2 linked regions of the Homo sapiens genome follow. The protein of the gene in region 1 interacts with the protein of each later gene in a pairwise test. Each region holds a gene or a part of one and is shown in the gene's direction. Other genes may lie near its edges.

The links.
Region 2: the proteins of COL10A1 (region 1) and VSNL1 interact in a two-hybrid assay, tested with the Homo sapiens proteins (one large-scale study listed by BioGRID and IntAct).

Annotation. Positions count from the first base shown.
Region 1 is NC_000006.12:116,120,771-116,123,463, reverse strand, and holds part of COL10A1 (collagen alpha-1(X) chain precursor), read left to right. Parts: intron 1-1,502; coding exon 1,503-2,693.
Region 2 is NC_000002.12:17,651,865-17,655,695, forward strand, and holds part of VSNL1 (visinin-like protein 1), read left to right. Parts: intron 1-3,332; coding exon 3,333-3,530; 3' UTR 3,531-3,831.

The DNA of each region.
Region 1 (2,693 bases):
CATTTAAAAAACTTAATAGAAGGAAGTAGTCGTTTTACCTTGAGGATTGTGCCACCCTAATCTTGAATGAAGAAAATTTTTTCAGATGACAACCTACAAACAGGGGCTGTCCCCCAAGCATTCAATAGAAGCCAAATTCTTTCTCGCACTGAGAAGTTGAGACCCATTAGGACAACATTCCAAGTGACAAAGTTCGCCCTGTCACTGGAGTTCCAGTCTCGGATGACGCCCAATGCACTCATTTCCATTGACTTGTTTCTCCTTTTTAATAGTAAAACAGATTTCCAATCAGACTAAGACAATTATTTTTAGTGTGAACATGACCCTTATAATCAGATTCTAAAGCAAAGCTCAATCTAACATAGTTGGCATTTTAAAAAATCCACTATTTTATTCCTCCAACCCATTAAAAAATTCCTTATTTATTCCTCTATTTGCAATATATCAATATCCACTTATACATAATATAATCATGTATGTACACTACAATCAATGAAATATTTAATATACGGAAATCTTTTACATAAATTTTTCTCACAGTCTTTTTCCTGATGTCATTTTCTGAAAATCCATGGGGAAAGCTCTATGTATTTATATTAATCAATGTTTTCAAATTGAAATATAACTCTAATTAGTAAAAAAAAATCTAAATCTGAAACAATTATTTTCCTATTTCGGCATATCTATTTTAATGATTCGCTCTGCATTTATATACACCAAATGTTTTCCAAATCTCAGAAACATCTGTACCCTGTGCTTTCCCCATACTTGTGGCCCAGCCGCATTTTTCACATCACAGGCACTATGATTTTTAGTTTAAGTTTAGTTTATCAGGTCAAGTGAACTCACAGCTCTATGAAATCAAACACTATATATTTGTATTTAGGTAAGAACTTTAATACTATTTTATGTACCTCACCTATTATGTCTAATTCTCTAGTTCTTTGTTTCAATTTTAAGTCAATAATGGAGAGTATAAGAGCTCAGAGTATATTCTGAGGTAAAAGTAAATCAACCAAAATCTAACCTGTGTTCAGCAGAGGCATGGCAGATGTAAATCAGAATTAATTCTGTTTCTCTTTTATGTCTGACAGGGTAGCTTTGGGAGGGAAAATTTTTATAGTTCTTAAACATTTTCTCACTTATTCTGCACTGTCTTTTTCTGCCTTTTCTGTACATGATTTTCCCAAAATAAATGTACTAAATTTACCTCCACTGCACTTATTCTAGAGGAATTCTTCAATCCTAGCTCATTTTCATGAATCACTGTCATGGGATAAAAGTATTATGGTAGCCATGGTTTTGTGAAACCATCTTCTCCAGCAGAATTTTTTAAAACAGTATAAAACATATAATCTAAAACCATTTCAGACTGTTCTGTCTACATGGAATAAATGATGCTGAAATATCGTGTCCCAATTCATAGTTTGAAAGGCAATGATTCTCTTTAATGTCACTAACCATCCCCTTCTATGGGTGGGTGTGTTGGGTGTGTCTTTTAGGTATAGCAGTAAGAGGAGAGCAAGGTACTCCTGGTCCACCAGGCCCTGCTGGACCTCGAGGGCACCCAGGTCCTTCTGGACCACCAGGAAAACCAGGCTACGGAAGTCCTGGACTCCAAGGAGAGCCAGGGTTGCCAGGACCACCGGGACCATCAGCTGTAGGGAAACCAGGTGTGCCAGGACTCCCAGGAAAACCAGGAGAGAGAGGACCATATGGACCAAAAGGAGATGTTGGACCAGCTGGCCTACCAGGACCCCGGGGCCCACCAGGACCACCTGGAATCCCTGGACCGGCTGGAATTTCTGTGCCAGGAAAACCTGGACAACAGGGACCCACAGGAGCCCCAGGACCCAGGGGCTTTCCTGGAGAAAAGGGTGCACCAGGAGTCCCTGGTATGAATGGACAGAAAGGGGAAATGGGATATGGTGCTCCTGGTCGTCCAGGTGAGAGGGGTCTTCCAGGCCCTCAGGGTCCCACAGGACCATCTGGCCCTCCTGGAGTGGGAAAAAGAGGTGAAAATGGGGTTCCAGGACAGCCAGGCATCAAAGGTGATAGAGGTTTTCCGGGAGAAATGGGACCAATTGGCCCACCAGGTCCCCAAGGCCCTCCTGGGGAACGAGGGCCAGAAGGCATTGGAAAGCCAGGAGCTGCTGGAGCCCCAGGCCAGCCAGGGATTCCAGGAACAAAAGGTCTCCCTGGGGCTCCAGGAATAGCTGGGCCCCCAGGGCCTCCTGGCTTTGGGAAACCAGGCTTGCCAGGCCTGAAGGGAGAAAGAGGACCTGCTGGCCTTCCTGGGGGTCCAGGTGCCAAAGGGGAACAAGGGCCAGCAGGTCTTCCTGGGAAGCCAGGTCTGACTGGACCCCCTGGGAATATGGGACCCCAAGGACCAAAAGGCATCCCGGGTAGCCATGGTCTCCCAGGCCCTAAAGGTGAGACAGGGCCAGCTGGGCCTGCAGGATACCCTGGGGCTAAGGGTGAAAGGGGTTCCCCTGGGTCAGATGGAAAACCAGGGTACCCAGGAAAACCAGGTCTCGATGGTCCTAAGGGTAACCCAGGGTTACCAGGTCCAAAAGGTGATCCTGGAGTTGGAGGACCTCCTGGTCTCCCAGGCCCTGTGGGCCCAGCAGGAGCAAAGGGAATGCCCGGACACAATGGAGAGGCTGGCCCAAGAGGTGCCCCTGGAATACCAG
Region 2 (3,831 bases), on another chromosome or scaffold:
GCATTAGAGTGTCTGTATTTTGTTGTCTTCATTTATAGAGTGCTGAGATTAGTTTTGACAGGCAGGTAAGTTATATGTAAATTAGCGTGATCTTTTCGAGGCAGTTTTATAATTTTAAGCTTTTAGAGCAGATGGAGAGTAGGTTTTCTGTAGTAAGTTAGCCCAGTGCCCAATTTGTGACCATTTTGGGGTTCTTACTGATTTTCTCATACATTTAGTGAGGTTTCTCTACTCTGGCTGGTGGGAACCAGCCCCATGTGTTGTGATACTTATTCAGGTATTTAAGTGAAAGAGGACATATCAGAGTATAACTAGACAGAGAATATAAATAGAAAAGAGGTTTCCAGAGGACTGAGGTCCTGGGGCAACCTGATGTTTAGAGGTGAGGAACATGAGGCACAATCAGTAAAGGAGATGGAGAAAGAATTGCCAGAAAGGTCAAAGTAAAAAAGGAAAAGTGAGAAGTCCTGGAAGGGAAACACACTGTTTTGTGGGGAAGGAATGGAATGTGCAATCATGTCAAATGCTATTGATAAAAGAAGTAAAAGGAGAAAAGTAATCACTGACAATTGGAATTGGAAACCTGGAGGCCATAGGTGAACCAGCTGAGAATAGTTTCAGAGGAGTTGGTGGCAAAATCCTAAATAGAGCAGCCCAGGAGAATGGGAGAGGAAGAAGTAAAGACAGTGACTGCAGAAAACTCTTGCCAGAAGCTTTGCTTTAAAAAGAAGAAGAATGGACAACAGGCTTCCTGAATGCCAAGGTATTTAGCAAGCTCTTTGCATTAAGAACTAGAATGCTCTGCAAGCCTGTGTGAGCACCAAGAGTTGTTCAGCTTATTGTTCAGAAACTTCTTTGTGAACTTTTATCCTCTGTGTGCAGCCTAGTTTCCAGATAAACATTGAGGAGTCCTCCTAGGCAGATTTCTGAGGCTTTCTTTCTGCCTGGCTCCCTCTCTGGTCCTCTGCCCCGAAATTTCTGGCTATCTTCACCTTCCTCCTCCAATTGTTGTCTCCTCCAGTTGGTGAGTCAGCCCTGCTTGGGACCCTTCTCCTTGTGCTGCGGTCCAGGAAGGACTCTGGGCTGAGATCATAGGGTTCATCTACTTTGTTTCCCACCTCTTAGGAATTACAGTCTTGCACTGTCAGTTGTAAAGTCTGAAAACAGCTATTTCTTTTATTTTTATCCAGTTTTCTAGTTTACAGTGAAAGGCAAGTCAGTACAGGTCCATCAGGGCTGGGGACCACAGGGGCAGTTTCACACGGAGTTCCGAGTCTGGCATGCCCGGCCTTTGTGATATGTAAAAGTCTGCATCTGAAACGGCCCTTCTTGGTTGTCGTGTTCACAGTCCCAATTGTAGGGCTGTGTCATGGATACGATTAATGAGATCCTGCCATTTTCAGAGTTGCTTCCTGAGGTCCAGGAGGGACTTCTTGTGTTTACATTTCTTATTACCCTGACTTTATTAATAGTGCACTTGTTTTGCTGCCTTCATACCCACTGCCTCATGTAAGGGCTTTTGATTTCGCCTTTTAAAGGCCAGGGTGAGAGTGGCAGCTTACATGTGTACGGGCCATTTGTCTCTTTTTAAATTCCAGACAGTACACATTCCGTGCTTTTCCTTTGTGCACCACTCTGGCTACTAGACTAATCAGGACCTTGTCTACCAATTATCCACAAAATGAAATTTCGGAAAGTCTGCCTCTTTTAGAGACAACTTTCTTAAAGTGTTCCATGATACATCAATACCATCTAGCTACAAAAGTAAATACGCACAAAATATTTTATCTCAGTGGACATTTTAACTTGTTAAATAAAGCACTTTCTAGTTAGTGGTTTGCTCTGATTGGCATTTCTAAAAACAACTTTATGAGTTATAACTTACAGACCATAAATTCACCCATGTTAAGTGTACAAATTAAATGATTTTTACTAAGTGTACAGAGATATGCAACCATCACCATAATGTAAATTTAAAACATTTTTATTCCCCCAGTTAGATCCCTCATGCCCAAAGGCCCGCTCCCACCCCAGGCTCAGGCAACCAACACATCACTGTGTCTCCATGGATTTGGCTCCCTTTCTGGGCATTTGACACAAATGGAATCACATAACATGTGGCCTTACATGTCTGGCTTCTTTATATTTTTGAGATTTATCCATGCTGTAGCATATTCATTCTCTTTTGTTGCTAAAATAGTATATATTTTTTTACCGTATAGCTGTATCCTATTTGTTTACAGTTGATGAGCACTTGTGTCATTTCCACATTTTGGCTATTAATAATACTGCTATGAATGTTCTCATGCAAGTCTTTGTATAGATGGGCATTTATTTTTAAAGCACTTTTCTAAGAAAGGAAATAATTTATACTTTGGAAATTTCATATCAAGAATTAATTGTATACAGTTAGTTGGTCTGGATAATTGAAATCTTCTCACTCTATTCTTTAACTTATAAACAGAGTCCCTGCTCCACAACTCTCCCTAAACTAACTTCTTGCAGAGTTCAATTTTAATGGTACAACTGGCTTGGTTGTCTTACTAGATTCTAAGTTTCTAATCAGTTGGCCCCACAATTCTTCTTTTCCTAAATCCCCAAGGCTAGTGCTTTTTGACTGTTTCCTGCACCTAGATGCAGAATGTTTAAAACTGAGCCCATCATGTTCCTCCCTGAACCTATTCCTAATCCATTATTTCTAATCTCACCATTGAGCCACCCTTTCTAACCACTTCCTCCAGCCAAAAACCTGGAAGCCACCCCAAATTCTTCTATATCCAGTTGGTCACAAGGCTCACCCATATTTGATTATGTCATCTCTTATTCAATAGCATTTAAGGACTTATTTGAAATAAAGTTAAATTCTTTATCTTATCCTAGGAAAACTCGGTGATCTGCTTCTCATTTCCCTCTCTCCAGCTTCATCTTTCAACACTTCACCTGGCCCTCCCTCCTACTGCCCCTTGCCCCACATCCCACGCTCCAGCAGCTAAAGCTTTTTCATTTGATCAGTATTTATTGAGACCTGTGATGTGCCAGGCATCATACCAAGCCCTGGACTTACAGGAGCACGTGCTTCCTAGCTCCATAGAACATACTCTTTAGTGGGGAAGACAAAGCAGTTATTTTAATAAAGGTGAGATGTATTCTGTTGGGGGAAATGGTATGGGTTGTCACAGAAACTTGCAGCACAAGGAGTGAAACTCCTCTGGGGAAAGGGAAGCTGAGGCTTGGAGGATGGGTGGGATCCCGTCAGGTGAAAGGGAGGCAAGAAGAGCTCTCTGTCCTCCTGGGTTTCTGGTAATATCACCTACAATGCTTTTTTCCCCAAGGCTATCTACAAAATGGTAGGCACTGTGATCATGATGAAAATGAATGAGGATGGCCTGACGCCTGAGCAGCGAGTAGACAAGATTTTCAGCAAGATGGATAAGAACAAAGATGACCAGATTACACTGGATGAATTCAAAGAAGCTGCAAAGAGCGACCCTTCCATTGTATTACTTCTGCAGTGCGACATCCAGAAATGAGCTGATGTCAATGCTATGGACTGCACAAAAGTCTCAATGTTCCATTCAGTCTGCAGCTATTCACACACACACACACACACACACACACACACACACACACACACACAAATATTGCTTGGACTACCTATAAATGGACTTGCTTCTTGTGTTTGAAACACTCGTGTGCATGAGAATGTCATTTGCTAATGAATTTTAAAAGCATATATAAAACAAAACAAACAACCTGCCACAATGTGATATGTGTAATATCATTTCATAAAAATCCCTCTTCCTCCAAAGCCTGGGCAGAAATGTGCTGCAA